Regions from separate parts of the Homo sapiens genome. Here region 2 is linked to region 1. Evidence: fine-mapped expression QTL. A gene starts in region 1. The other region holds a variant in brackets. All regions are shown on one strand. Distances are from middle to middle.

Region 1 (16,212 bases):
AGATCTTTAAATAACCTCACTCCCTACCAGAGTAGCCTCAAACTTTCTTGCCCATAGGTGAAAATAGAGATTTTCAGTTAATGAAAATGTAAATATCTGACATTCATGTAACTTTGTATCTCATTCACACCCAATTTCTATCATCTTACAAAATATATCAATTCGAGCAAACAGGATTTTTTCTTATATAGACTTTTTTTAGCATTTTTATCGATTCACCTAAAATGTTTCCATAATTTGCCCACAAGGCAGAATGAACATAGACTGTTCTTGAATATGATACTCAAGCTTCAAAGCTGTAAAATACTCTCTTCTTTCATAGGTACTGAAAGGTTTGTCTTTGGCTATGTTTTCTAAAAGCAACCCCCTTCAAAAATATTAGAAAATAAATGAAAATAAAATGCTAGTATTAATTATGAATGAGAAACTTAAACTGATAAAAGTAAAAATTGTTCGACATTTTTAGAGCTGTAATCTTCAGTAAAACAGCTAACAACTGATTGAGAGTTAATTATAAGGGGTTTCCCCATAGAACATGGAAGAGTGCAAAGGAGTACTCAGTAGCTGTTTAATAGCAAAGTTTCTACCATTGAAAATGACAAAATCCAGGAAGAGAACACAAAACAAAGAAGAAAAAATGCTCTAAGTCTAGGACCTCAAGAGCCATACAGGTAGCAAAATAGAAATGGTTATTTCAAGCCTGAGCTCTGCATCTAACTAATGATGTCAACAGAAGTGTTTACCTTGTGTTGTTGTTTTGCAGAATGAGTTAATATATTGGGACCTACTTTTAGGAAACTCTAAAAAATGAGTAGACCAAAAATGTGAGGCAGAGAAGCAAATATCCTGACCCCCTGTTTTGATAGAAGAGGCTTATCCAGAGCAGAAAATTCTGTTGAAGAGCTTGTCCTTTAATATGAATGAGAGTTCTTATTTATTGAATGAATTGTTAAAATAACATTTAGCAATTTAACAAAATCACAAATCAACACAGAGAAGCTGTATCTTGTTCTTTTTTATTGAACAATAATAAACATGTCCTTTTAAAACAAAACCTAACAGCTTATGCAGCTTTACATTCAAAGGCCTTCCCACACACATTCACAACTCTGTTGGCCAACTTCAAGAATAAAATACAGGTAAATACTGAAATAATTCTTAAATAAGTTCTTCACTTCAAATAAAATACTTCTGAGATATTTCCTAAGAACATCTAGTACAACAGTCCTGTTTGTGCTAAGATTCTTTCAAATATACTCCTAATTCCACTTATCAACCAAGTTTAAAAGAAAAAAATATGAAAATAAACTATATTTTAAAGTTGACATGTTTTCTGCTGAAAATTGATTCTTCTTTTACAAACCTCCTAAAAACTTATTTTCTACCTTAAATTGAAAATTCACCTAAGTCACAGCACTTATGTTTAAATAAGGACCCTCTGTTGCTCATTTTTTGACATTTTTGAAATCCAGAGTGACTCTGTTTTTCTTATGCTTATTAAGGTTATTATTACTATAATTATGGATAATAAATTTATCATGCCTCAGATGTTTGAAAACCTTATAGAGTCATAGTTTTATTCTAACCATTTTCAACAAATAATACTAGATTTCTTTCCTCAAGAGGATGATAAATATGGGTAGGGAAGATGACTTGCACTAACACATTTATTTATAAAAATATATAAATATTTACCTTCATACACACACAAACCACCAGTGGGTAAAATACTTCTTAGATTTATCTCTGAGGTGGCATACGTTAAAGCTATTTATGGAAGTGTATGTGTTTCCTATGCCCCAGAACCGTCCTTCAGATACAGGTAACCCGGGAACTACATCAGCAGCCTTTTGAAATTGCTCTCAGTTCAAAGCTGTTTGTTACTCAAATTTCCATAAGCTTCAAACATCTTACTTCCTTCAGGGGTTTTCTGGTTGTTTTATTTTGACTTTTCCCAAAGCCAAAAAAAAAAAAAAAAGCACAATTAAATTCTAGAGAAGCTACCTACCAAGGAAGGGCTAAATATTTTATTTCCCACTCCCACCCCCTCCCCATCTTCTCCTGCTCTTAAGTCTTCATTCCATATCCCAACATTAATGTACATCAAAGTCAAAGAACTAATTTGACTCACTGCGGTCTTCAGCTTTGCCTAGCTCCCTCTTTGGTTGACCTGTCTCCACGTAAGATTACCTAAATTGCATTTTTAGTTCTTCAGTGTTACTATACACACACATTTAACAAATCTACATGCATTCGAATATTTAACAAACACATACAAGTGTTCAGTCATATGGATGTTATGGATTGTAAGTATCCTACTTTTTGTTTTCTGGATCCACCATGCATCACATTTGGTCTTCAAAAATTACATGTCCTTATGCTATAATCTAGAAAGTTCCTAAAATGTTGGCTGTGTGTTGAACAATCACGAAAATAGAGCCTTCTCTCAGAAATCACAGCCGGGATCAGCGTGGATTTAACCATTTCCTCATTACGGGAGACCCGGCAGCATTCTCTTTCACAACTTCTTCTCTCACAATATTGCCATCTCCAGATGCCATGTCATGCTCTGAAAGTAGACGGAATACAAATCATGTCCAAACATCTATAGCTCAAAGACAACACAGTTTTGCTTTATTTTTGTTTTACATGGAATTTACAATGAAATCTTTAATCAATTTAAGATTCCATGCTAACTGTATTCACTGCTCTATATCAGTGAGCACCTCTATATACAATAGCACCCCTTGAATTACTTATCTTTGTATACCTATCGTCACCTGACATTATCTTCTACATGTATTTGTCTTTTTTTCCTGTGTATTATTTCACTCCACCACTAGAATTCCAGTTTCACAAAGGTAGGGACTTTATTTTGCTCACTGCTATATCTCCAGCACTTAGGACAGTGCTTGCCACATAGTAGGCACTTAATAAATACTTATGGAATAGGCAAATGTTGTACAAACAGGTCTCAAGTTAGATTCTTACACTAACTGGTATGAAAGACAGATTAACTTTTGCTGCATCCAGAAGGCAAAAGGCAGACCAATGGGTAGAACGTTCATAAAGACACTTCTCACTCTACATATGAGAAAAGTTTGTAATATTTGAAATTTGCTAAAATGAAATTTTCTACTTCAAGGAGTAGTGAGGTGTGCTTGCTTTGGCAGTGCACATTCTGATGTGGAATGCTTTAAGAAGATTAGCGTGGCCCAGCAGACGAATGTGTGTAAGTCCATGAAACATTCCAGATCTTACTCCCCCAAGACCCTCGTACACAAAAACTTACTTGTGAATTCCCAACTTGGGAAGCTCACTGCCAAAAAAAAGAACACCAAGTGGAACACTGTGGACAGGAAGCACATTTGACAAGAGTGCTGTAGCCAGCAGGTGGAAAGTTGGAGAAGACAAGCTCGTGCTCTGGGGGTCCTAGTGCTGGTGAAGCTTGCAGCCATTTAGCCTGCTCTCAAAGGCTGGGCCCAAACAGGTTTGTGCAGAGGTGATGTGAAGCCTGTGTCAGGAGTGAAGCCCAAGCCTTCTCCTGTAAACTCCAGTGCATGAACCTGGAAGTCTCATGTAGTCTCAAAGACACATGTAGACTACAAAGAACCCTAGGCAGCCTCCCCAAGAGGTCCTTAGGGTTTTCTGCTCTCCATCCTGAACCTGACTAAGGTTTACCAAGATCACACTAAAAATCATCTTTTGCTGGTTGCACCTTTAGCTAATGAAAGGAAATACCCTAGGTCAGAAAAGAGAGAAACTGACTGCTTTTTTCAAATATTTCTGATAAGAATCTCAATGCCTAACTTTGATGTGGAAATATTTTTGTGTAACCTATAATGTAAGTATTGTTATGGGCATCACCATACTTAAAACTAATAATTCACTTAAAAGCACGATATTTCCGCTTCATTTTAATGTGTTTAGTTGACCCATACATAAGAAGGAGGTAAAATTAGAAAACAAGCACCTTTGCCAAATAGTTTATATTTTATTAACTTGAAATGCAAAAGACCAAAAGCAAAAACTAAATAAAATGGACTTGAATTGTTATTTATAGTTGTGGTGGGAAAAAGTATATCATTTGTTGATACTAGCCATCTCTGTGACTATATGTTGGGCTTATTATTTATTTATTTTTTATAATTTTAAATACAGTTTTTAATTGACAAATAATAATTGTATACATTTAGGGTACAATATGATACTTTGATATATATCTCCACTGTGGAATGATGAACTCAAACTAAGTAGCATATCCATCACCTCATATACTTATTTTTTGTGATGGGAACATTTAAAATTTATTATTTTACCAATTTTGAAATATATAAGAATTATTAACTACAATCGCCATTCTGTGCAATGGAGGCCTAAGCTTTAGTGATGTATGTTGCTTTAAATGAGCTACTTTCAGTTTAATGGAACTCTCCTGTACTGGCCAGCTATTCAACAAAATAAACAAATATGTACATAGCACCATCTCATAGGTTGTGTATTCCTCACATTCTAACACCTGTATAAGAAATACACACGGACTAACAAGCAGCACGTATTACTACAGTTTCATTCATTTCCAAAATTTCAATCACATACTATTTCTTATCCTCTCCAAAATCCATAAAAACACACACTTGGAATTATTACACTTAAATGCTTTCATTTGGTTAAAAAAAAGAAACGTTCTATATTTTCTATCTTGACTCTTAAAGCTTATCCAATAAATTCCTCACAGTACTTTTTCTATGTGAAGTTGGGAGATAAATAGTTTTGTCTAGTAAATATATAAAACAGATCACTGAAGAATTTAAAGAACTTTGTGTATCTCAGTTGGTTATTTTTTATTACAGATTTTTGGTAATCAATCATATTTATCCTCCTATAAATCATATTTAAACCAGGTAAACTTTATGAGAAATTATATGTAAACCTCAAAATTATTGATGGGCTCTTTTTAGAAAACAGCAACAGCAACCAAACTCAGCTACCACCCACCGTTCCCCTGAGTAAAGCAAAGGAAATAAAATCATTCCAATCCACATCTTATTCTACTCACAGATATTTTCTAAGTTATTCACACTGAAATGAGACTATTCTTCCAATGCTTATACCAGAATCAGTGCTTACCCGTGAGAGAAACAAATCTGTTGGAAGACTTGGTTACTGAATATTGGAAGAAGGGGAATTTCAGGCATTTTCCCGTCCCCCTGTCACAGATGCCTGACTGGCAGTTGCAGGTCTCTCTGCAATCCATCCCGAAGGTGCCGTAGGGACAGTCTGGGGACAAAGGAAAGGTTGGAGAGGACGCTGCTTGTTGTAAATACGTCTCCATCCTAACAGCCCTGGGTGCATAGCCTTGCGATTTGAACCAACCTCATGAACCTTGACTGTAAAGTAAAATCCAATTCTCCAAACCCAGGATTTGAAAGTTGAAACTTTGAGTCATAAATATGAAATCACACATTAAGAACAGATAATGGATGCCTCGGGCTTAGTGTTGTGATGTAAAGTTAAGTTGAAGACAGCTACACACAGCCAGTCTCCTTGGACCAGTCTTCATTCTGGTGATGTTCTGCTTAGATACCAATAAATTCTCACAGATGACCTCTGTAACAGCTCAGCAAAGGTGGGAAATTGAACAGACATATATGCATCAGCTCCTCAAAGAGTTTTTAAAATGTGATGCTATCTTTGAATCTACTGTATTCACAGATAATTTACTATTTTAAGTGTATAGGAAAGGGCTTCAAACTAACCAGGGAGAGAGCTATCATCCTAGCTCACCATGAAGCAATCAATCTTCCATCTGCTCCAACCCTTATCAAGTTCCTTATTTGTCGAAACGGCATGTCATACAACTTGCCTGACTCCCTCAGTAGTTAAGAGGGCTCCCTAGTAAAATCCTCTGCAAGGCTAACATGCAAGATGCTAAATGAGCAAGAAAGCTCAGGGCTTATACACCCTGAGGGTTTGTACACCTACCAAGAACTAGAAGCTTTTAGACCTCCAGTGCTTACACTTATGCCAAAACATCCTACATTGAAATAAAGAGGACAAAGTCGTTTATTTAAAATGCATAAAATTATTTAAAATGCTGTTTTTAGGATAAACAGCATCTCAGTAGACTAACCAACCTTTAAAAGCCAGCAGAATAGATATAGAATATTCTCTTGTTGTGAAAATACCTTGTAAATGTACAATCACAGGTGGGTAAAGAACAAATTGTGAGCCATCTGAGTCTCTAGCAGTCTAATACTCCACTAACTGACCAAGTAGATCATCAATGAGCTATCTTTTTTTAAAGAGATCTATGAGTGCTCTTTTCAATATGGTTCAGATCACAGAGGAACCTGGTTTTGAACACTGTTCTCTTTGCTGGGAAGAAGAGATCTTAAAAAGGGATCCTGCAAAGGCCTGTTCCAGAAAAGCACACAGGATTAGGATTTGACTGTGCCTGCAGCGATATTGAAAACTAAAACTTTAGCCAAATTCCCAGAGATACTTCTAGTGTATCCCCTGATGTACTGAACAGTGCTGGGCAGATAGTAAGTGTTCATTAAATATGTGTTGGCTGCTGATTGTTAATCTGGGCAAGATGTTCACAGACATCTGAATATTTAGAAGACATTTGGATACGCAGCTGAAGTTTACAGTTTTCACGTGGATGTTCTTTTAAAAAGCTGAAGAAGGGAGATGATTGCCAAATGTATTATCTCTATCTCGAGTTGCTAAGGCTCACAAAGTCTCCTATTTCCAGCAGAGAGAAAAATGCTTAAAACTAGATTCATCAGCAACCTGAAGAAAGCCAAAAGAAGCAATCTTAAAGATCTTTTTAGTATCTTGATCATTCAGTAGAATACTACAGTGCTAAAGACTCCAGATGCCACACAGCTTGTTTCTTTGCCCATATGTAATGTACATTTACAATCACATGTACAAAGGCATATTATGCCAAGAGAAAAAGCAATCCACTGCATATACATGCTATATCATAAGTATGATTGTGTTAACCACTTCCTCCCTAATTTCCTTATGTGAAGTACTGTTTTCTTGGTCAATAAGCCCCATAATTTACAAAATATACAGATCCTATTCAGTTGAAAGAAACATGCATATGTGTTCACCAAACAAAATATTTTCTCAATATTCTATTTCTTATTGTATATAAACAAAAATAAACTAAGCAAAAAATAAAACTCTCCTAATACTTTAAGAATTTGTTTTTTTAATTTTGTATGTCTTGCAAATTAAAAGATGATTAATTTATACATTATATGTCTAAGAAGTAGGAGAATTAATGAGATTAGCACAATACTGGATAAATATTATTCATAAAAAATGTATTAAATACATAAAACATAATAATTATTTAGAAATTTCTCAGTCCTTTTTATAATTTTGAAAGCTTCCTGGTATTACACAACTGATGGATGGGGTTATAGCATGTGTTGCTTCTTAATAATAGCTCTTCATAATAAGATCATGAGATATCTATACGTAGAGTATTTTTAAATCATCATTCTTTTTATTCTAAACATTTTTAAAATGTTAAATATTTTAAACTAGTTACTATGTTTAAAATAAATTCTACAAATGCTTAACTACATTATTTAGCTAAAATTTCAACCGACGAAGTTTTTCTTTAAGTGTACAAGTGGTCAACCTCATTCTTTACAGACTTCCAGTTTTTATTTTTCTCTATTGTTATTTTTCCTTGTCTTAACACCATCTGCTATTTTTCCAGATGACCAAAACCTTTATAAAGTCAGATGAGGTTTGTTTTATGCTTCAGGGGACCCTCTTTGAAGAGTGAGTTATTTTGTTAGATGACTTAAGCTCACTCTATTCCATAAAGTGCATTTGTGTTTATCAGAAATATTTGATCTTGAGAGTGGCCCTCCATCCTGTGGACCCTTTCAAGATCAAAGAATCACTAAATCTGGGGGCTAGAAACCATTCCAAGAGGTTATCTAGTGCAGACCTTTGTAATCGCTGCCTCGCAGAGGAGAGAGCACCTAAGCCATCCTTAACAGATTACCTGTCAAGTTTCTAAAGTTTTCCAGAAAAGGAGCCAACACAATCTTCCATTGCAGCTTTCTTTTTGCGATCTCCTAAGGCAACGAGTAAAATGCCACACTTCTTTCTGTGCCTTCCTGCACACTGGTTTCAGTTGCTACTTGGAGCTATCCTTCAGTCTCTACCCATGACAATACCTGTGTGGTGCCTTGTCAAGAATCCACCTGCCTTTTCCCTCTTACTCTTGAGGAGCAAAGCCACCTCACCTCCCAAGCTGGCTAAAAGCTCTCAGCATGCCCCGGGAGGGGAGAGGTAAGGGGTCACTCTTTACCTTTGCAGATACCAAACTCTTCACCAAAAGGATCCTCCCCATTAGAAGGCTGACACCTCAGCCCCGGGCCACACTTCATGCCATCCATGCCTGAGACTGTGCGGTAGCAAGTTTCTCCCCGCCCTGCAGCGCACACTCGGCAGCAGCCACAGTCGTCGAGCACTGTCCTCTTGCAGCGCGGGCTGCTTTTGCACTCACTGCTGTCACAGTGTTGAGGGCAGTCCACCGCATAATTATTGCTCCAGGCGGCCACCAGGTGTGCAGGCACGAGGAGCGTGGTCAGCAGCAAGACGCTCTTCATGTTTCCCAGCTGCCTCCGGCTCGGCTCTCCAGTCGTGGTCTTTGCTGGTGGGAAGCAGCCGTCCAAACTGGTAGCTGAGCCTCTGCCTACACGTTTATGAGTTTTATACACTGGGTTGCCCGCATGCTTTCCCGTCATCAATTTCCTCAACCCAGCAGCAGCGCTGTCCTCCTGCCAGGCTCTCTTGTTTTGGTTTATGAAATCCAGGATGAAGGCTGGATTAACACGCTGCTGCCATCCAGGAATTGAAAAGCCCAAGCTGATGTCATCTGTTATGTTTAGATGGTTGTTTTGCATGAGGACTGAAAAACTCACTCACATCCGTCTCAAGGGCTCAAGGACGTCTGTGAAGGAGGGATAAAGAAGGTTGCACACCCTCCTTCAGGACGGGAATTGTTCTGACCCTGGCATATCACTTGAGGTGTAGCTTTGTCTCAGAGCCTCTGTAGTCAGGAGGAAAATGATATCAACATGAATCATCAGGACCGAAGAAGCTTCTTCAAAAAAAATAATAAACATTTGGTATTTCCCCTCAACAAATAGCTATGAGATCATTTGAAAGAAGAAAGGGTTATATTGTGTCTTTTCAATACTTAGAAGAAAGAAAATATTTTGATAGGGCTATTTTTTAAGACCCTCTCTTCCTTCCTCTCACCCCTCTCCTCAAATGTTATTTCTAAAGCAATTCATGTTACATATATCTAAGCCTATTGTGGATATAGCTGTGCTTCCAGTACAATGTGGAACTGCCTCTGAGAATTTCTTTTAAAATCAATACAAAAAGCCACAAGAGAGGTAAGATCCTTTCGGCACTGCTTCTGGGTTACTCAATTCTGGAAAAACTTATCAGTTGGACTTCTGATCCAAAACTTCCTCAGGGGAAGGCTCATCCATCACTAAGTCTGCTTGTCCAATGACGGAGTCCACCCAGAGCCCTTCCCCTCACCTCCTGGCATCTATCAGAGCCCTCACTAAAAACTGCCAAGCGCGGCAGCCAGCCCAAGGCAACAAGTGGCTCAGCAGGAAAATCAGAACACAGCCCCCAAGAAACAAGTCACAGGGAAGGGAAACATTACCCCTCAGGAAACAAGGTCTGCATGCTAAGAGGGTTACCGTGCCTAGGTCCCTCTGGGAAAACAGAGTAGCCCTCTTAAAATATCAACTGTGCCAGGGTCTTATTAAGTAAGGTTAAAGAGGAGAGAGGGGAGTTCTTACACCAACCACATGCCGAATTCCATGCCCCCACCTCACTTGTCAAAAGAGATATAGACTCACTGTCACTTAGTAAATAACAACCCAGTAAAGTGGGTAATTCTTGGTCTGTCACAAATGAGCTGTAAGAAATTCACAGGACTTCTCTTGGCCTCAGCTTCCTCTTTTGAGAATTGATGGTGTTAGGCTACCTGACCTCTAAAATTCTTGTTTCCCATAGAAGATGAGGCAGAGCGGGCATTGGATGTAACTTGAAGATCGGCTTTTGCAAATGCAATTTTAGGGGGACACAGGGAGTAAATTCAGAATACAGAGAATTGAGGCAGTAGGAAATGAAAGCAAGAGTTTTAGCTTTCAAATTTTCCAAATTTTTCATGACAATCCAATTTGAAATACTCTATCTCCCCAGAAGCACTTACTTAGCAGGTGGCACACTCTGATGTTTTCAGTAATGGGTAATATTTGTTGAGTTAATAGCTTAAACACTTTACATGCATTAACTCATTTGCACCTCATCACAATATTATGAAGTGGCTGCTATTATCATGCTTATTTTTTAAAAGAAGAAACTGAGTAAGAAAGAGGTTAATTTGCCTAAGGTCCCTATATTGAAGGGATGGATGTTAGTCTAATGTCAGAGCCACATATTCTATTGCCTATTACAATACATAATTGTGCTTTCATGGCCAATAGTTCCAATGGCCTAGGTCGCAATTTAGGCTGACCCTAGAAAATGTCCCTTGTTACTGAACACCACTTTCTGAGGAGTAGTTAACTGGAATAGTGGTTAATAATAATATCTAACCTTTACAGAGATCTGACTGTGTGCCAGATGCCATGCTAAGCAGTTTATGTAGATTACCACATTTAACTTTCAAAACAACCTCAAGAGCTAGGTGCTATTCTTATCCCCATCTTAGATATGAGAAAACTGAGGCCTAGAGAGGGTAAGTAACTTGTCCATCATCACACAGTTAGCAAATGGTGAAGCCAGGACTCCAGCCCTGAGACCAACAAGCTCTGGAGACTGGATTAAGGATTGTAAAATCAAATACATACAGGTGCCAAACAGGTGCCCAAGGTGGGTGACATGGTAAGCTATACTAGATGTAATACAGAAGGAATGGAGTGGATTTCGTCCTCCTGAATAGCACATAAAGACATGAAACTCTTCCACTATGGAAGATAAAGGGAAACCAAATTGATAATACCTTCAGTAAATGACAACTAAACAAATGTAAGTTGAGAGTACCAAATCCAAATAGTAAACCAAACTACAATGCACAGGTAAGTGCAGAAAATATGCCCAATAGAGTTCACCAGTGGTGGAACTATCTCAATACACAGTGCCTAACAACTCATTTTAGGGGAACCTTCAATCCCTCCAAGACCCAACAAAAACCATTTGTCCCAACACAATCCCTGTAAGATTTTTATCTAGTGATTTCTGTCTTCCCCAGAGCCTTGAGCCCAGATCAATGAATTCCATTAGGAAAGTTAGCAATGACCACAAAGGGTTAGGAAATGGGAGCACGAGCAACCAAGGAGCCAACTCTAAGCTGCATTAAAAAGCAATAAGATGATGGCAGAGCTGTTGATAGTGAGTGCATGAGGTCCACCCATTTCACTTGCTTTGTGCTGGGGACTGGAACATCTCTCATCTTGCTCTGCCTGTATATCAGTTGTCAAGTCAGAGTGAGAAAGGGCAAGAGGAATTGCACAAGATTTTCACAACTCCTAAAATGTAAGTTCAAACTAAGGTGGGTCAAACCATACCATCTGTGGATCCAAATGTTGCAGCATATGGTGTTTTGCAATGGGGGCAGAGAAATGATAAAACCAAATATCTATTTAACCCAGTATACCCTGTATACTTAAAATGCCACTTTGATTTTTTTCTTAAAGCTGGTATTGTGTTAGGAAAATAAGCTTTGGTAATGTGCATTAATATTTTGTGTTTATTTTGTACATTATGATTGCTTCTAACCAAATAACAAGGATTTTTTTCTGGATAGGTAAAAGTAGTCCAGTGGAAAGGCTCTGGGCAGATCCCAGACTCTCAGAAGGTGGTTTATGGTAAAGCGAATTATACCGTACTTACTGTGCCTTCCTAACAAACCAGCTCTACCAGAGAAGTCTGGTTTAAATTGAATTACAAAGGCAGACTTGAGGGCATAAAGTTTGGAGGAGCAAGTGGAGACATTTACATGCAGATTTTAGGTGATTTGGTTTTTAGGTTAGTTTTGGTTGTGGTTTTTGATACCATCTGAAAGTCTTCCTGCTTTGACACTAGCTGATAGCAATTTTGCATGTGCCTACTGCAAGGTCTAGCCCACAGCAGGAGCTTAATACTTAATAAACACATAAAAGGAACCAACTGTTTCCCAGAATCATCTTCAGATGATAGTAAGTTAAACGGGCATCAATGTGTTCCCTTTCTTTCTCTTTCCACCAGGAGAAGCAAAGTGAGGCCCAGATTCTAGGGCAGGCTAGGTTAAGCTGCAGAATGTGTTTACTTGTGGGAATGAGGTAGAGGTGTCAAGAAACAGCACATCCAATCCAAGAGACATCGAGGATTGGATGGAGCCTGAGCAAAGACTGTAGTCCCATTGCGGCAGTTCCTTCACAGCTAACCAAATTTGTCCTGTTGACCTTGGGCTTGGCAATATCACATCCACCCTGGAAAGTTCATGGGAGCCCCTCATAGCCAATAGAACTTGGTGAAATACTTCTGCCAAACTGGCTGGGATTCACGGCAGTCACAGGTCAGCTGTCAAAGCCCAGGGCCTGAGGAATCTTCCCAGAGCCTCCTGCCCTGAGTACAGTTTGCCTAGAAACAGCTTTACCACTGCCAAGATATGTGATCTTAGGCAAGTCACATGCCACATACCTTAGACCTCTCCTTTCTCCTCAGTACCTCAATAATAAGAGGGCCAAACAGGGCAACAGATATGAAACCATCGTGACTATTATTATCAAGCGTCTGATTTCTGAAGATTGGCTTCATTCTTTAAATGTGATCTTATGTCTTGGAGCAAATATTTTCCCAAAAGAAATCTCTCTAATTCTTTAAGTTTCTATTTTTAATAAAGACAATTTTAATAGCAAAGTGGAATTGAATGTACCAATATATGATTTACAGGCAATTTTCAAAAACTACACCTGCTTAGAAGAGCAAAGTGAAATGCATCTGCTTTAATTAGGCTTCTTGCCCATATGGGGGCTCTCTGATTTGTCTTGATGAGCAGGTCAACCTCGTAGGCAGCTGGGGTGCCATCACACAGAGCTCTGCAGGAGCCCTGAGTGTGAGGGTGTGTGAGTGACTGCAAGAAGATAAGGACAGGACACCCGCAGTGTCTGCTACAAACCCAGAATGTCTGGGCACCTCTCAGAGAACTTGGCACTATATCCAGATTTTTACTCCAATGGAGCCTCTGAGGAAGCAGCCACAGAGTCAGGTTGTTTTTTAACCCTGTTCAAATCTAGAAACTTCAACTTTGGGTTCACGCTGCTAGGAACTTTTTTAGAGCCAGGAAGTCTGGCTTGGAAACATGAAGAGCTCTTACTCACTGAGGTGCCTTCTTCTCCTCTTTGCCCCCAGTTCTGGCAGTTTCTAATGTGGGGCATCAAGGCAAGCTTTTCTTTCTAACAGCTAGCTCCTTCTCAAATCAGGTTCTGAATCTCGGACTCCATCAGCAAGAGATTCCTGTTTCACACAGCATCCCTCTAGCTGCAAATATGAACCCACATCCAGAAGCACCATGTGCCACCCTGACATGAGAAGCAATGTGAGTAGCAAAAGTAGCTCTGAACTCAGGACCAGAAGACGTAGGTTGGCATCCCAGTTTCATAATCAGCTATGGGTAAGGCACCAACCAGCCTCCTCATTAACATTAAGTCATTTTCTTTTAATAAAATATAAGGGAGAGAAATGCCTTCCCTTTCTCAAAGAGATGTTGAGATCAAAGGAGAATGTGGATTAAAAACATGATGCCAACTAAATTACTGTACAGGTGTAAAACATTATTACTTACTCTATAAGACAAATTAAACCATGAGAGAAAATAAACCAGTGGCTCTCTCAGGTCTCACGCATTCCTCCATTCCTCTCACATTCTGCAAGATGGTCTAGTTTCTCATTCACTTAATTCACAGCAAACCATGATGACTGAGTTTCAACATTCTTCCTTAGGAAAACTCCACCACCCCTCCTAGCAGCCTGCCTCGCCCCATCCAAGCATGGGATGACTAAACAGCTCACTAAACTTCTCTGCTAAAAGAGTTTTTAAAAGTGTCACCAGTTTCCTACATGACTAAAGAATTACTGTAGGCATTGGAAGTCATTTAGACACTAGAACTAGAGAACATAGATTTTTAAAGTCATATTAGAAGTTATTGCTAAGATATTTGGAATTTCCACTAGGAATTTTAGAAAGATAGAATTTCTGATTAACACAAGAATCATAGGAAATGATTCTGCTACTTTGCTTCTCTAATGACATGAAATTTCCTTTGCCTAACCTTAAACTGACCCCTTTTATAATGTAATAAAATGTTAATCAGGACCACCCTCACCAAACTCATCAGTTTGTCCAGTGATAAATGGCCTTAGCCGTTTATATGACATGTGAGTTGAATAAATGATTGAATGTTCAAAAAAAAGTTAACCACTAGATGAAGAGAAATAAGAAACATAACTTCCAAGCCCCTTATTTAGGACATTTTCAGGATTTGGCAGTTTCAGACTCACTCTAATTTGGCGTCAAAATATTTTGGCTTCTTTCTTCCTAGGCAGTTCCTGATGAAGCCTTTTTTTTTTTTTTTTTTTGGCTGCCACGGACTTCATGAAGTCTCCAAGCCTGTGATCTGAGAGCTTAGTGCAGCACAGCTGAGGGTGCCTGTGACGGGTCTCAGCAAGTGTGTCTCAAAACAATTCTCCACACCACCTGCATGAGAGTGTCCTGGGAAGTTTGTCAGAAATGCCACAGCCAGGGATTCCAATCTGATGGGTTGGGGTAGGTCTGGGAGTTAACATTCTTAACAAATAAGCCAGTTGATTCTGACAAACCCAAAAATTTGAGGAACCTCTAAACTAACAGTTTTTCCCAGTCACATCTCTTCAGGTTAGTGAATTAGTACTTAACGTTACTCTGAAGACTTCTGACAGAAAAAGTCTGTCTCTGAGGGATTGACCTAGGATTTTTATTTATATTACGCTCATGAATTTTTAGCTTATTTCACTAATACACATCTTCACATGTTAACATCAATGAAGATGAGATGTAATCATCATGATGTAATTGTCACTGACTACATGTGCACATTAAAATTTGCAGGATGGGTGCCAGTCTCTGGGAAGAGAATCTTAAAGACAATCGTGGAGTTCTCTTTTAAAAAATGTTGTATCATCAATGATTTTGATGACCCAGAAGACAATACTATGTGAAATAAACATGGATGGCATTTACATGTGATTTAGGAGGATCAGATACGAATGTGGAGACATTTTAGGAATATTTTAACCAATTTGTTGAGTTTATATTTTTCTTTCTTTTGAAGGTACAAAAGTTCTAAATTATAAAAATCTATGTCCATATAAGCCCTAAAAGGGTCCTTTCAATAAGTATGAGTAAAAATTCTAGTGCTACACACATGTTTACAGCTGCACATTTTGCAATTGCAAAAATATGGAATCAGCCCAAATGCCCATCAATCAATGAGTGGATAAAGAAGCTATGGTAGATAGATAGATAGATAGATAGATAGATAGATAGATAGATAGATGATAGACAGATAGATGATAGATAGATAGATAGATAGATAGATGATAGATGATAGATAGATGATAGATAGATAGATGATAGATAGATAGATAGATAGATAGATAGATAGATAGATAGATAGATGATAGATAGATAGATAGATAGATAGAAATGATAGATAGGTAGATAGATAGATAGATATAGATAGATAGATAGATAGATAGATAGATAGACAGACAGACAATGGAATACTACTCAGCCATAAAAAGGAATGAATTAACAGTATTCGCAGCAACCTGCATGGGATTGAAGACTATTATTCTAAGTGAAGTAATTCAGAAATGGAAAACCAAATATCATAGGTTCTCACTTATAAGTGAGAGCTAAGCTATGAGGATGCAAAGGCGTAAGAATGATACAATGGACTTTGGGGACTCAGGGGAAAGGGTGGGAAGGGGGTGAGGGATAAAAAGCTACAAATTGGGTACAATGTATACTGCTCTGGTGATGGCTGCACCAAAATCTCACAAATCACTGCTAAAGAACTTACTCATGTAACCAAACACCACTTGTTCCCCAAAAATCCA
Region 2 (16,212 bases), 34 kb after region 1:
GACAAAAACCACATGATTATCCCCACAGATACAGAAAAGGCTTTTAATAAAATTCAACATCCATTCATGTTAAAAACTCTCAATAAACTAGGTATTAAAGGAACATACCTCAAAAATAATAACAGCCATATATGAGAAACCCACAGCCAACATCATACTGAATGGGCAAACGCTGGAAGCATTCTCCTTGAAAACCAGCACAAAACAAGGATGTCCTCTCTCACCACTCCTATTCAACATAGTATTGGAAGTTCTGGCCAGGGCAATCAGGCAAGAAAAATAAACAGCATTCAAATAGGAAGAGAGGAAGTCCAACTATCCCTATTTGCAGATAACAGGATCCTATATCTAGAAAACCCCATCATCTCAGCCCAAAAGCTTCTTAAGCAGATAAATAACTTTAGCAAAGTCTCAGGATACAAAACTGATGTGCAAAAATCACTATCATTCCTATACACCAAAAACAAACAAGTCAAGAGCCAAATCACGAACAAACTTTGATTCACAATTGCCACAAAAATAATAAAATACCTAGGAATACAGCTAACCAGGGAGGTGAAGATCTCTACAAGAAGAGCTACAAAATACTGCTCAAATAAATCAGAAATGACAAAAACAAATGGAAAAATATTTCATGCTCATAAACAAGAAGAATCAATATCATTAAGATGACCATACTGCCATTTATAGATTTAATTTTATAATGCAATTTATAGATTCAATGCTATTCCTGTCAAACTACAAATGACATTCTTCACAGAACTAGAAAAAAACTATTTTAAAATTCATATGGAACCAACAAAGAGCCTGAATTGCCAAGGCAATCTTAAGCAAAAAGAACAAAGCTGGAGGTGTCATGCTATCCAACTTCAAATTATATTACAGGGCTACAGTAACCAAAGCAGCATGGTACTGTTATAAAAACAGACACATAGACAGTGAAATAAAATAGAAAGCCCAGAAATAAGGCTACACACCTACAACCATCTGATCTTCAACAAAGCTGACAAAAACAAACAGTGGGGAAAGGATTCCCTTTTCAATAAATGGTGCTGGGATAACCATTCTACCCAACCATTCCATTACTGGGTATATACCCAAAGAAATATAAATCATTCTGTTATAAAGACATGTGCACACATATGTTTGTTGCAGCACTATTCACAAGAGCAAAGACATGGAGTCAACCTAAATGTCCATCAATGATAGACTGGAAAAATAAAATGTGATATATATACACCATGAAGTACTATGCAGCCATAAAAAAACGAGATCATGTCCTTTGCAAAGACATGGATGGAGCTGGAGGCCATTATTCTTAGCAAACTACAAGAACATAAAACCAAATACCACATGTTCTGATTTGTAAGTGGGAACAAAATGATGAGAACACATGGACACACAGAGGAGAACAGCACACACTCGGGCCTTTCAGAGGGTGGAGGGTGGGAGGATCAGGAAAAACAACCAATGAGTTCTAGGCTTAATACCTGGAGGACAGGAAGAATCAATATCATTTACCATTAAAAAGCCTATACTGCCCAAAGAAATTTATGGATTCAGTGCTATTCCCATTAAACTGTCATTGACATTCTTCACAGAACTAGTAAAAACTATTTTAAAATTCATATAGAACCAAAAAAAGAGCCTGAATAGCCAAGGCAACACTAAGCAAAAAGAACAAAGCTGGCGGCATCACACTACCTGACTTCAAACTATGCTACAGGCCTACAGTAACCAAAACAGCATGGTACTGGTACAAGAACAGACATAGACGAATTTAAACAAAGTTCAGTCTTGTTCTGGTCTTTTTATTCTTTTTTTTAACCTTTATTTTAAGTTCAGGGTTACAAGTGCAGATTTGTTACATAGGTAAACTTGTGTCATAGGGGTTTGTTGTACAGATTATTCAATCAACTGACTCATCAACCAACATTAAAAATTTAGAAGACTGAAGGGCAGTTCCAAAATGGCCAAATAGGAACAGCTCCAGTCTACAGCTCCCAGTGTGAGCAACAAAGAAGATGGGTGATTTCTGCATTTCCAACTGAGGTACTGGGTTCATCTCACTGGGGCTCGTCTGACAGTTGGGGAAGGACAGTGGGTGCAGCCCACTGAGTGTGAGCTGAAGCAGGGTGAGGAGGCATCGCCTCACCCAAGGAGAGCAAGGGGTCAGGGAATTCCCTTTCCTAGCCAAGGGAAGGGGTGACAAACGGCACCTGGAAAATCGGGTCACTCCCACCCTAATATTGCACTTTTCCAATGGTCTTAGCAAATGGCACACCAGGAGATTATATCCCGTACCTGGCTCGGAGGGTCCCACGCCCATGGAGCCTCACTCATTGCTAGCACAGCAGTCTGAGATTGAACTGCAAGGCAGCAGCGAGGCTCGGGGGAGGGGCGCCCACCATTGCTGAGGCTTCAGTAGGTAAACAAAGAGGCCAGGAAGCTCAAACTGGGTGGATCCCACTGCAGCTCAAGGAGGCCTGCCTCTGTAGACTCCACCTCTGGGGGCAGGGCATAGTCAAACAAAAGGCAGCAGAAACCTCTGCAGACTTAAATGTCCCTGTCTGACAGCTTTGAAGAGAGTAGTGGTTCTCCCAGCATGGAGTTTGAGATCTGAGAACAGAGAGACTGCCTCCTCAAGTGGGTCCCTGACCCTTGAGTAGCCTAACTGGGAGGCACCCCCCAGTAGGGGCAGATTGACACCTCACACAGCTGGGTACCCCTCTGAGACGAACCTTCCAGAGGAATGATCAGGAAGCAACATTTACTGTTCAGCAATATTTGCTGTTCTGCAGCCTCCGCTGCTGATACCCAGGCAAACAGGGTCTGGAGTGGACCTCCAGCAAACTCCAACAGACTTGCAGCTGAGGATCCTGACTGTAGAAGGAAAACTAACAAACAGAAAGGACATCCACACCAAAACCCCATCTGTATGTCACCATCATCAAAGACCAGAGGTAGATAAAACCACAAAGATGGGGGAAAAACAGAGCAGAAAAGCTGAAAATTCTAAAAATCAGAGCACATCTCCCCCTCCAAAGGAACACAGCTCCTCACCAGCAAAGGAATAAAGCTGGATGGAGAATGACTTTGATGAGTTGAGAGAAGAAGGCTTCAGACGATCAAACTTCTCCGAGCTAAAGGAGGAAGTTCAAACCCAATGCAAAGAAGCTGAAAACCTTGAAAAAAGATTAGACAAACGGCTAACTGGAATAACCGGTGTTGAGAAGTCCTTAAATGACCTGATGGAGCTGAAAACCATGGCATGAGAACTATGTGATGAATGCACAAGCTTCAGTAGCTGATTTGATCAACTGGAAGAAAGCATGTAACGTAAAAACATTACAAATTGTAAAGACTTATCAATGCTAGGAAGAAACTGCATCAACTAATGAGCAAAATAACCAGCTAACATCATAATGACAAGATCAAATTCACACATAACAATATTAACCTTAAATGTAAATGGGCTAAATGTTCCAATTAAAAGACACAGACTGGCAAGTTGGATAAAGAGTCAAGACCCATCAGTGTGCTGTATTCAGGAGACCCATCTCACTTGCAGAGACACACATAGACTCAAAATAAAGGGATGGAGAAAGATGTACCAAGCAAATGGAAAGCAAAAAAAGGCAGGGGTTGCAATCCTAGTCTCAGATAAAACAGACTTTAAACCAACAAAGATCAAAAGAGACAAAGAAGGCCATTACATAATGGTAAAGGGATCATTTCAACAAGAAGAGCTAAATATCTTAAATATATATGCACCCAATAAAGGAGCACCCAGATTCATAAAGCAAGTCCTTAGAGATCTACAAAGAGACTTAGACTCCCACACAATAATAATGAGAGGCTTTAACACCCCACTATCAACATTAAACAGATCAACAAGACAGAAAGTTAACAAGGATATCCAGGAATTGAACTCAGCTCTGCACTAAGCGGACCTAACAGACATCTACAGAACTCTCCACCCCAAATCAACAGAATATACATTTTTCTCAACACCACATTGCTCTTATTCCAAAATTGACCACATAGTTGGAAGTAAAGCATGCCTCAACAAATGTAAAAGAACAGAAATTATAACAAACTGTCTTTCAGACCACAGTGCAACCAAACTAGAACTCAGGATTAAGAAACTCACTCAAAACCAAACAACTACATGGAAACTGAACAACCTGCTCCTGAATGACTACTGGGTAAATAACGAAATGAAGGCAGAAATAAAGATGTTCTTTCAAACCAATGAGAACGAAGACACAACATATCAGAATCTCTGGGACACATTTAAATCAGTTTGTAGAGGGAAATTTATAGCACTAAATGCCCACAAGAGAAAGCAGGAAAGATCTAAAATTGACACCCTAGCATCACAATTAAAAGAACTAGAGAAGCAAGAGCAAACACGTTCAGAAGCTAGCAGAAGGCAAGAAATAACTAAGATCAGAGAAGAACTGAAGGAGATAGAAACACAAAAAACCCTTCAAGAAATCAATGAATCTAGGAGCTGGTTTTTTGAAAAGATCAACAAAATTGATAGACCACTAGCAAGACTTATAAAGAAGAAAATAGAGAAGAATCAAATAGATGCAATAAAAAATGATAAAGGGGATATCACCACCGATCCCACAGGAATACAAACTTCCATCAGAGACTACTATAAACACCTCTATGCAAATAAACTATAAAATCTAGAAGAAATGGATAAATTCCTGGACACATACACCCTCACAAGACTAAATCAGGAAGAAGTTGAATCCTTGAATAGACCAATAACAAGTTCAGAAATTGAGGCAATAATTAATAGCTTACCAATCAAAAAAAGTTCAGGACCAGACGGATTCACAGCCAAATTCTACCAGAGGTACAAGGAGGAGCTGGTACCATTCCTTCTGAAACTATTCCAATCAATAGAAAAAGAGGGAATCCTCCCTAACTCATGTTATGAGGCCAGCATCATCCTGATATCAAAGCCTGGCAGAGACACAACAAAAAAACAATTTTAGACCAATATCTCTGATGAACATCAATGCAAAAATCCTCAATAAAATACTGACAAACCAACTCCAGCAGCACATCAAAAAGCTTACCCACCATGATTAAGTGGGCTTCATCCCTGGGATGCAAGGCTGGTTCAACATACAAAAATCAATAAACATAATCCAGCATATAAACAGAACCAAAGACAAAAACCACATGATTATCTCTATAGATGCAGAAAAGGTCTTTGACAAAATTCAACAGCCATTCATGCTAAAAACTCTCAATAAATTACGTATTCATGGGACGTATCTCAAAATAATAAGAGCTATTTATGACAAACCCACAGCCAATATCTTACTGAATGGACAAAAACTGGAAGAATTCCCTTTGAAAACTGGCACAAGACAGGGATGCCCTCTCTCACCACTCCTATTCAACATAGTGTTGGAAGTTCTGCCCAGGGCAATCAGGTAGGAGAAAGAAATAAAGGGTATTCAATTAGGAAAAGAGGAAGTCAAATTGTCTCTGTTTGCAGATGACGTGATTACATATTTAGAAAACCCCATTGTCTCAGCCCAAAATCTCCTTAAGCTAATGAGCAACGTTAGCAAAGTCTCAGGATACAAAATCAATGTGCAAAAGTCACAAGCGTTCCTATACACCAATAACAGACAAATAGAGAGTCAAATCATGAGTGAACTCCCATTCACAATTGCTTCAAAGAGAATAAAATATCTAGGAATCCAACTCACAACAGATGTGAAGGACCTCTTCAAGGAGAACTACAAACCACTGCTCAATGAAATAAAAGAGGATACAAACAAATGGAAGAACATTCCATGCTCATGGATAGGAAGAATCAATATTGTGAAAATGGCCATACTGCCCAAGGTAATTTATAGATTCAATGCCATCCCCATCAAGCTACCAATGACTTTCTTCACAGAATTGGAAAAAACTACTTTAAAGTTCATATGGAACCAAAAAAGAGCCTGCATTGCCAAGACGGTCCTAAGCCAAAAAAAAAAAGCTGGAGGCATCACGCTACCTGACTTCAAACTATACTACAAGGCTACAGTAACCAAAACAGCATGGTACTGGTACCAAAACAGAGATAAAGACTAATGGGACAGAACAGAGGCCTCAGAAATAATACGACACATCTACAACCATCTGATCTTTGATGAATGTGACAAAAACAAGAAATGGGAAAGGATTCCCTGTTTAATAAATGGTGCTGGGAAAACTGGCTAGTCATATGTAGAAAGCTGAAACTGGATCCCTTCCTTACACCTTATACAAAAATTAATTCAAGATGGATTAAAGACTTAAATGTTAGACCTAAAACCATGAAAACTCTAGAAGAAAACCTAGGCAATACCATTCAGGACATAGGCATGGGCAAGGACTTCATGACTAAAACACCAAAAGCAATGGCATCAAAAGCCAAAATTGACAAATGGGATTTAATTAAACTAAAGAGCTGCACAGCAAAAGAAACTACCATCAGAGTGAACAGGCAACCTACAGAATGGGAGAAAATTTTTGCAACCTACTCATCTGACAAAGGGCTAATATTCAGAATCTACAATGAACTCAAACAAATTTACAAGAAAAAAAAACCCCATCAAAAAGTGGGCAAAGGATATGAACAGACACTTCTCAAAAGAAGACATTTATGCAGCCAAAAGACACATGAAAAAATGCTTATCATCACTGGCCATCAGAGAAATGCAAATCAAAACCACAATGAGATATCATCTCACACCAGTTAGAATGGCGATCATTAGAAAGTCAGGAAACAACAGGTGCTGGAGAGGATGTGGAGAAATAGGAACACTTTTGCACTGTTGGTGGGACTGTAAACTAGTTCAACCATTGTGGAAGACAGTGTGGCGATTCCCCAAGGATCTAAAATTAGAGATACCATTTGACCCAGCCATCCCATTACTGCGTATATACACAAAGGATTATAAATCATGCTGCTATAAAGACACATGCACACGTATGTTTATTGCGGCACTATTCACAATAGCAAAGACTTGGAACCAGCCCAAATGTCCATCAATGATAGACCGGATTAAGAAAATGTGGCACATATACACCATGGAATACTATGCAGCCATAAAAAAAGGATGAGTTCAGGTCATTTGTAGGGACATGGATGAAGCTGGAAACCATCATTCTCAGCAAACTATTGCAAGGACAGAAAACCAAACACCGCATATTCTCACTCATAGGTGGGAATTGAACAATGAGAACACTTGGACACAGGAAGGGGAACATCACACACAGGGGCCTGTTGTGCGGTGGGGGGAGGGGGAAGGGAAAGCATTAGGAGATATACCTAATGTAAATGACGAGTTAATGGGTGCAGCACACCAACATGGCTCATGTATACATATGTAACAAACCTGCATGTTGTGCACATGTACCCTAGAACTTAAAGTATAATAAAAAAAATTACAAAAAAAAGAATATAGTTTGGGATTATCTAGTGTAACTAGCAATTCAAATATATGATTGTATTTTCTATAATATTTACATCAAAGCCTTAATTTTAAACTTATTTGCACATATTTCTGTAACATAACTAATGCACTGAATATTCCCATTCATATTGTCCTTATGTGGTATTATGGTTAACAACTTAAGTCCTTCATATTTCCTACTGGAGTATATATAGTCTGTGAACGATCTATGCATCTGGAATTTTTGTAATTCTCAATGTGATTTGCTTATACCTAGTAGAATAAGTTGAATGTGGTATAAATTTATAAACTAATTCATTCATTAATTAAAAATAATAAAGAAGATACTTGGTAACTTCTCAAAAAAAAATTTAGAAGATTATGCTTTTGTTGATAATCTCTTCTCAGCCTGCAGCCTTTTTATCAAATACTTGCTATAGCAGTTGTGTTCTTAGCATATCAAACTTATGTTTATTAAGCCTTGCAAAAATGTAAAATGTGCTTCATTATTTATCCTGTAATAGTCATCAAAATTATTTCTAAATATCATTTATATACCAGGTCCCTAGTGAGGTAGTTTAACTAAAATACTGTTTTATTTGTCTTCATATTGATTTGCTCACATTGAGCCCACTTATTGTTAAATTTATTTATAAGGACCCTTCATATATTAAAGATATTGTCTTTGGGGGGAAATGCTTTCAATGTAAGTGACAAGCATTTTGCCATATGTCTTTGGATATTGCCTATGGTATTTTCTACCTTACAAAAGTCTTCTATGCTCTAACTTATTGATAGTTTCCTTTATGCCTTCCTCTCTTAAACATTATTTTTAATTTACCATCTCATTTAGTGTATATAATTATTTCATTTCCTAATAGAAAAAAGGGTGGGAGGGGAAGGTTGTATGTGTGTGTGTGTATGTGTGTGTGTTGTTTGGTCACTTTTTGGAAAAAGTATATCATATCTAGATTTCTACTTGAATTGATTCTCAATGGAAAATTAGTGAATACTGAATCAATCGATAACACTTGCTGTGTTCCAGCTTGACCATAGCAATTACTGTGTTTCCCTCATTAATGAATGTGGTCGTTCATTTTGAAATTCCTACTACTTTGCCTGCTGTGACTTCGTTTATTTTGTAAAATCATCCTGACTAGTTAAACAATTTAATTGCTTTCAGCATGATGAGATTATTTCTTGTAATGTATCTGTTTCTATTGTAAAACAATGATAACATATTTGGCTTTGGGGCACAGTACTGTATCACAGTAGTGTATCTGAGATGTTCAAATATAAATGGAAGTGTTCCATTATAAGGCCTCCCATCCTCAATTGATCATTTTTCCTTCTTTATTCAACAGTATTTATTTTCTTCCCTCCCTTCCTGCCTCCACCTTTCCTCTGGTCTTTATTACCTGGTCCTTCTCTGGTATTTTTCCCTTAACTTGGCCTACATATTTACCCGTTTTCTCCCTATAATACTGGTAGGCTCATATAGTCCTCACCTTCCTCTGTGCAAGGCAAGGGTACCTACGAGCCTGGAGCTGAAAACCTTCCTTTGGCAGTCATTACTGTTGAAAGGATTTCCACATGTGCAAATCTTTCAGGACAAGTAATTGCGGACAATGTGAGTGATCTGTCTTGAGTCCAGCGACATCACAGGGACCACCCCATGTGGCACTTTCCTCATCCCACCCATAACATTTGAACTTAGTTAAAATGAACATCAAAGCCTGCTCTAAAGAAGAAAAGAAAAAGGAGTCATAAAAGGGCAGTGTAAGGCCTGGAGACAAAGTTGAGATAGGGACAGTGTATGACCAGGCAGCCAGCACCAGCAGTGCTGGGACATCCCTATTTGCCAAGTCCTCAAGGTATTTTCCTGATTACTCCATATGTGAGGATCCTGCACTTAAGGCAATTCTCATCCATTCCAGTCACTTCATAGCTGACGTGGAGAGGAGTAAAGGAAAAGGAAGTTGAAGTACTATTGTGTGACTTAACTCAATAATGATGGTTTAGAAAACGTATCTTCATATTTATGAAAGGAAGATTTAACATGCAAAATATATTCTGATTTAAAGTTGAGATAGAGGAAGACAAAACAAATTTCCCTCAATCTCACCTTTGCCACCACCATCATTCCACCAAGAAGAGGCCCTAGAGCAGCCCTCTGAAGTATTTACATTTAAGTTGCTTAGGAAAAGGCAGTATTCCAGGTGCCCCAACCCTTATTACAGCCCCAGCTCTGAGTTGAGGGGTACTTTGCTTTCCTTGCCAACTGCCCTTAAGCTCATTCATTTTAAGGACCTAGTGGGAGGGATGGCTGTAATCTGAGGTGAGATTTACATTTTCTTGAGAACTTCGGACTTAATATCATTATATAGCACCCCAATATCCTTCCCAAGCCCAATTTTCAAAGCTGCCATAGTTTCACTATGGGTGTTAGCAGATACATTTACCAAATTAGCTAAGCCATTACTGGACAGAAGTCAAGGCCTGAAGGGTGGTGGGCTACAAGGGAGGGATCCAGTGAAATTCTGCCAAATCCTGATGTCAAGTGCCAAGGGCTGGGGATGGTTGGATAGCTTGGGAAAACTTGATATTGAGAACATTTTTCAAAGGAATGTAAAAGGGAATAAATGGGAAGAGCTTGAAACAAATCTGCTTTGCACTTATGTCTACAGAGCAGTGTTTCTCAGACTACCTGTGGGAAAGACCAATGTGTTTGGAGTTTTAGTTTGTTAATTTGTTTGTTTTTAGTTTCAGCCCATTGTGAACTGATACGTTTATACAACACAAATAAATAGAAAAAAGTAATTAAATAAAAAACAAAGGCATACAAAATACACACCCAATTTTTATTAGATTGGACAAATTTTATTTCATTAATAAAATAAATTAATACAGTGCCATGTTAAGTCGCTGTTACAGTTTCTAAACTCTGGCTCTCAATTTCTGTCCCCATCTTGCTCCAAATCGGTAACAAAGAGGTTCGGAGACTGGCACAGGTCTGCGGGCCATGCTTTGATTGGCATGGCTCTAGGGGGTGTGGCTTATAAATCTGACAGAGCAGGTGTCTGGGCTGTTGAAGAAAGGCAGTCCAAGGGATAGAACCACACGAGGCCTTTGGAGCAGTGGCACAGCTGTTCTATAAGGGTCTCCTGAAACACAGGAGAAGCAGAAACAAAACATCTCTAAGAGCAGCAAGAAAGACAGCTAAACACAGCAAAGAAGAGCCACAAGGCTATGACGTGTGAAGCCAGCCCTCCTCTGAGCACAGCCTTGCACTTGCTCAGTCCGGTACAGTTGCTGTAAAGCCATCCAAAGCAAACATGGCCCTCCCTGCAGCAGACTCAACAGAACAAAAACCAACACCCAGAAATAAATTAGATCGCCGAGCTCATCATGTTACACAGCCCACTGTTCTCAAATCCAGAATCGTGAATATAATAACAAATGATACTATTAACTGGCAAATCGGTCTAAAGCCAAAACCAAATAACTCATTACTATTAACCAACATGATTCTCAGAATTTTCTAGGTCAGCTACAAGAAAGAGTTATGAGACTCTTCCCAACTGAACTAAATCTCACCCATGTCTAATTACACGCAGTGTGTATGGCTAAATCCTTTTTCTCTTCTGCACAGCTAGCTTGTGTCTCAGAGCCCCTAAACCCCCAGGGACTTCTCAAAGGAGGCAGGCATGTAG[C/T]CAGGTTGAAAGGAACATAGAGCCGGGAGCCAGCACATAGGAGCTTAAGGGCCACCTGCTAGCTCGGTAATCTCAAGCAAGTCCCTGAATTTCAGTTTATTTATCCATAAAACAAGACTAATGACAACCACTTCCCTGGAAATACAGCTAAAAACGTTCAGCAATTTGTACAACGCTATGTGGACATTAATCCTTACTACTCAGAAATAAGCAGCTGAGAGATGTTTGTAACCATTCCCATTTCCCCCGCCACACACACACACACACACACACACAAAGCTTCGTCCTTTACAATTTATTTCTTCCTTAGAGTTTGGATCACTTCTACCTGTCACACACCATCTTCCTTACGATCCCAGCATCACTGGGATGTAGCAGGGAACTGACGCCATCCTGTCTGCCTTCCAATGTGGAACAATGGCACACAGTAGAGCATCCAAGGTACATCAACAGTGACAAAGATGACTTGAAAATTCACAGGGACATTTGAGTGGGAGTAATAAGTTTGGTTTATTAAGCTTGTGGCTTTTCTTAATCTGGCTCCTCCTTATCTCACCTTCTGCTCTGACAGGAAGTCACTGCTCTGCGTTGGTTTTGTTCATTCTGTTTAACATGTAGAAAGCTTTACTGTTGCCACACACCTGTACAAGGAAAGCAGGTTTTTTATAAAATTCTGTGTTCTGGGAGGGTACTCATTCACATACAACTTAACATACAGGGAGGTCAGGCAGGTGATTTGGTCTAGGTCATAAGCTGTGTTGCCTTGGGCAAATTACTTAGCCTCTTGGAACTTATTTCTTCCATTGTAACATAAGTTGTCCTGCTTTCCTCAAAGACATAGACATGAAACCATAAATGATCATATAAAAAGAATTTTGGAAATAAGGTATTTTACTTATATATTATTAAGTTATAATGAATAATACATAATTATAGTATTATTTTTTATTATTCCTACTCTTTGTGCTAGAAAACAATTTGAAAGGAGTCTCTTGCAATCTGCCGAGCATAATAGCTCTGGATTTTAATTCTCCTTTCTAAAATGAATGGAAGATAAAATGCATACCTCTTAAAAGAAAGATCTGTTGATTTAATGCAAATTTTGATCAGTGTTACTAGGAAGTGATTGGCATTCTGATGCGTGATCTGTTTGTATTCATTTTATATTTGCACTGCTGATCAGTGTCTGGCACAAACAGAATCTTGTAGAATCTTGAGTCTAATACCTTTTGTATTGAAGGCCTGGCAATGCATTGTCATCTGTTCCTGGGAAGAATTACAAAATGCAGTCCTTTATTTTTAAAAGACATTATTATTAAGTCCCTGGAAAAACACATGGCCATTTTCAATTAAAAATGAGTAAAAGAGAGACTCTGAATCAAAAATAGTTGCCAATGTTCACCTTTAACAACATTATGAAATCTCACAAAAATGTAACTAAAATTTAACCAAATTTGGGCAAACTTAGAGAAACGACATGAGTAGGGATGTTTGCTGCAAAACATATGGTTTTCTCTGGTTGGTGCTCAGGCTTTAGCTAAGCCACATTGTGAAGTAACCATAATCTGTGCAAGGTCCATGTCTCTCTTCATCATAAATCTATGTCCAAATGAAAAAGAGAGAAGAATGAAATATGATAGGCACCATTTTGTGCCAGGAAAAATAGTAAGTATTGCTTGAGAGCAATGGACATCTTTGAACTCTGTCTGCAACTTCATTACATTCTTATGGCATGGATATTTTTCATTTATAAATATTATATACACATATAGTATAAATTTTCTTTATAGCATAAGTACTCTGATACAGGTATTAGAGATGGTATCTCCAGATATGAGTTCTTTATGGCATACATACCTCTCCCAAAAAAGTGCTAAAAGCAATTAGCCGGATGTGGTGGTGGGCGCCTGTAGTCCCAGCTACTCGGGAGGCTGAGGCAGGAGAATGGCGTGAACCCAGGAGGCAGAGCTTGCAGTGAGCCGAGATCGCGCCACTGCACTCCAGCCTGGGCGACAGAGAGAGACTCCGTCTCAAAACAAAACAAAACAAAAAAGTGCTAAAAGCACAGACCTGAAAGTCCCCAAACTGATACATAACGTTTACACCTAGGTGTGAAAAAAAATCTTACCCCTAGAGCACCTGTGGTGAGAAAGTCAAAACTTACAAGAACAAAACTCAGTCTTCAGAATCTTCTTCCTTCATCACAGGATCAACACATTTCATCTGGGCTTCTTAAATCTAAATCTTTAAAATGACTAAGTTTTCTTCCTTTTCTCTGTTTTTCCTAATAGTTGGGGCTTATATGACTCATGTGTGTAAGTATCTCCTATATCTACATGTAAACATTAAATGAATTTCTACTGACTATATTGTTATATTATAGATGAAAATTATTTTCACAATCATTCCTATCTTTCTGAACTGTAATGTATTATACAAATTTTTCATCAGTAAAATTATTGTAGCTTTTAGGTAGGGTTATTGTTGTTTTTTAAGCTTTGAAAATAATATAGTGACTGTCATTGGAAGAATTACATGAAACAGTAGTTTAGATCTTTTGTGTGAAACCTTTTGGTCTACTTTTGTAGGTTTCAATATGGAAATTATTGGAGGGAAAGAAGTGTCACCTCATTCCAGGCCATTTATGGCCTCCATCCAGTATGGCGGACATCACGTTTGTGGAGGTGTTCTGATTGATCCACAGTGGGTGCTGACAGCAGCCCACTGCCAATATCGGTGAGTCCTCCACACTTTTCCAGACATGTGTTTTTTCTGAAAGTTATTATAGGTACAAGAGAAGCTTACCTCTCCTGAATGAGAATTTGATCTACTGTTAGCTTCTGTGGTTACTGACCAACTGGTGGCGTTTATTTACCTTCTTCCACATCCACGCTTTCTGTCTTGGGTTTTCCTTTTCAGAGAGAACTGAGCTGCTTTTCCCAGGCAAGACATTAGACAAATTCAAGTCCTCTGTATAATGCAGGGAACACAGCAACAGTAATACTTGAAGCAGCAGTACTCTTGACCTTGTTAGATCACACTGCTCAAAAGGAAATCAGACAACCTGAGCTTGCTCTGTGCTCTGAGCTTCCCCATTTTACAAAGGGGTAATAATCATATCATACCTGCTTTGTGGGTTTTGAGAATTAAATAGTATCTGTTTAAGTATTTTAGCATGCTTGGCACATTTAGTAAGCACAAAAAAATTGCAGCTATTATCATTAGTATTATACGCATGAGAAGCCTACTTTGCCACTCCTAACAGTAGCTACCTAACAGTAGCTACTCACCACTTACAACTTTCCTAGGTGGAAAAAAACAAGTTATTGATGACTTCTAGAAAGAGAAAGATAATGAGAGAGTTATTTTCTAGGATACTTAGAATGAAAGCTTTTCTGAAGACAGAGTAAAACCTTCCAAAGTCCATTTCAGCCTAGGATTCTCTTACTTCAGCTAATAAAGCACAAAACCCCTCTTGGGATGCTGCAACCATCACAAAAGGAAATGCCAGTAGAAAACTAATTTGGTATTTGTTGTTTTGTTTGTTTGCTTGGGTTTTTGGTTTTGTTTTTTGTTTGTATATATGTTTCCTTATGTTTCTTACCTAATAAGCTGAAATGGAGCCTTCTCCTTTTCTTTCACTTAAAGATCTCTCTTAGCTGTAATGGTTTGCTCTCCAGGCATTGTCTATATCTAAACAGAACAATTGAATTGATTTGCTTTTCTATGCTTTGGGGGTTTTGTCTGATTACCCCATTTAAATGGAACTGTTTGATCACAAATTGGAAGTTTTGAAGCCTGCAAACTGGGAGATCTTCTGCTATCTCTAAATAGCAAGCCACTGATTTCCAATTTAATATGGTTACTTCATTTACACAGGGTTCTTGCCCTCATAGAAATCACACTCTCATCCCCATCACTTCTCTCTTCTCCAGGGCATTTGCCCCCTCGAGATCAGAGAGACAGAGTGGGGAACTGTCAGCGAATGTTCATTTGATGCAAAATATGCACATCTTCAAATATGCTCATAATACACATTCAAATGGTCTATAACCTCCCCAGACACAGAGCTTGACTTCTAAATGTTCAACAAACTTTGGATGGAAAGAAAGAAATACACTGAAAGATCTTTCTTTCTTTCTTTCTTTCTTTGGCTAGGCCTGAAACATGGTGTATGAAAAAGTGCTTCACTAGCCATAAAGTGTTATAGGAAATTAAATAATATCACTAAGTTGAATTTTAAATTTTGTCAAGTGGATTTAACTCACGAGAAGCGGATTCCCAAATTGGGGAAAGAGATTATTGACAAAAGACTGGAGAGAGGTCTTGGAGTTTTTTGTGTTTTGTTTTTTTTTTCTTAAAACAAACTATTGCTAAATATCATTTTAAATGGCTGGGGTATAAAGAACTGCAAAATATGTAGATCAAATTTCCTCTACAGGACACTTGGGTGTAAAAAGTAGGCAGATCGGTGGTTGGAAAAATATTAAGCTTTATGAAATTCAAAATATTTACAAAATAGCTCAATGGTGGCTTCCCACAAATGTACTCCCCAGTATCCTGTGGGAATAGTTTGCCCCAAGCCTCTCTCTCAGCAAAATTTTGAAGAGGGCCAAACCTGGGAGTGCTCCCTTCTCACCAGCCATCCACACATCTCCTCCCTCAATATTCTGGCCCCTTTATTAGTTGCCATGTCAAATATAAAAGGAAATTGATAAAAAATGTCCTGTACAAACTTATTTTCAGCATTTTAACTTACCAGAAGCAAAACTCTCACCAGCTGTTGTACCCTGTTCTCCTGATTCTCTCCCAGGCCCCTCTCACAGAGCACTTCCTCCTGCCCCAACCTGCCTAGCAAGTTGTTAGATGGAACCTTCCACAGCCCCTTCCACATGGCCTCACTCCATCTCAAATGCTCAAGGCTCCTGGAACAAAATGGTTCAATGTTCAGGCTCTAGATTCAAGCCAACTGAGCTTTAATCCTGCCCGAATTTGCCTCCTGGAGGCAAAGGTCCTCAAGTTTATTCGTTTACCTG

The links.
Region 2: its variant is fine-mapped to the expression of ESM1 in whole blood (TOPMed, PIP above 0.99).

Annotation. Positions count from the first base shown.
Region 1 is chr5:54,976,867-54,993,078 of GRCh38, forward strand. It overlaps ESM1 (endothelial cell specific molecule 1), which reads right to left and starts at 8,727. Exons shown (of 3, transcript NM_007036.5): 1 at 8,351-8,727; 2 at 5,131-5,280; 3 at 1,001-2,569. The coding sequence starts at 8,651. The coding sequence ends at 2,466.
Region 2 is chr5:55,010,896-55,027,107 of GRCh38, forward strand. It overlaps GZMK (granzyme K), which reads left to right and starts at 13,361. Exons shown (of 5, transcript NM_002104.3): 1 at 13,361-13,491; 2 at 13,765-13,912. The coding sequence starts at 13,428. It overlaps LOC102467081 (a long non-coding RNA gene), which reads right to left and starts at 13,274. Exons shown (of 3, transcript NR_104662.1): 1 at 13,034-13,274; 2 at 11,733-11,817; 3 at 10,404-10,627. The variant C/T (reference allele first, on the strand shown) is at 11,177.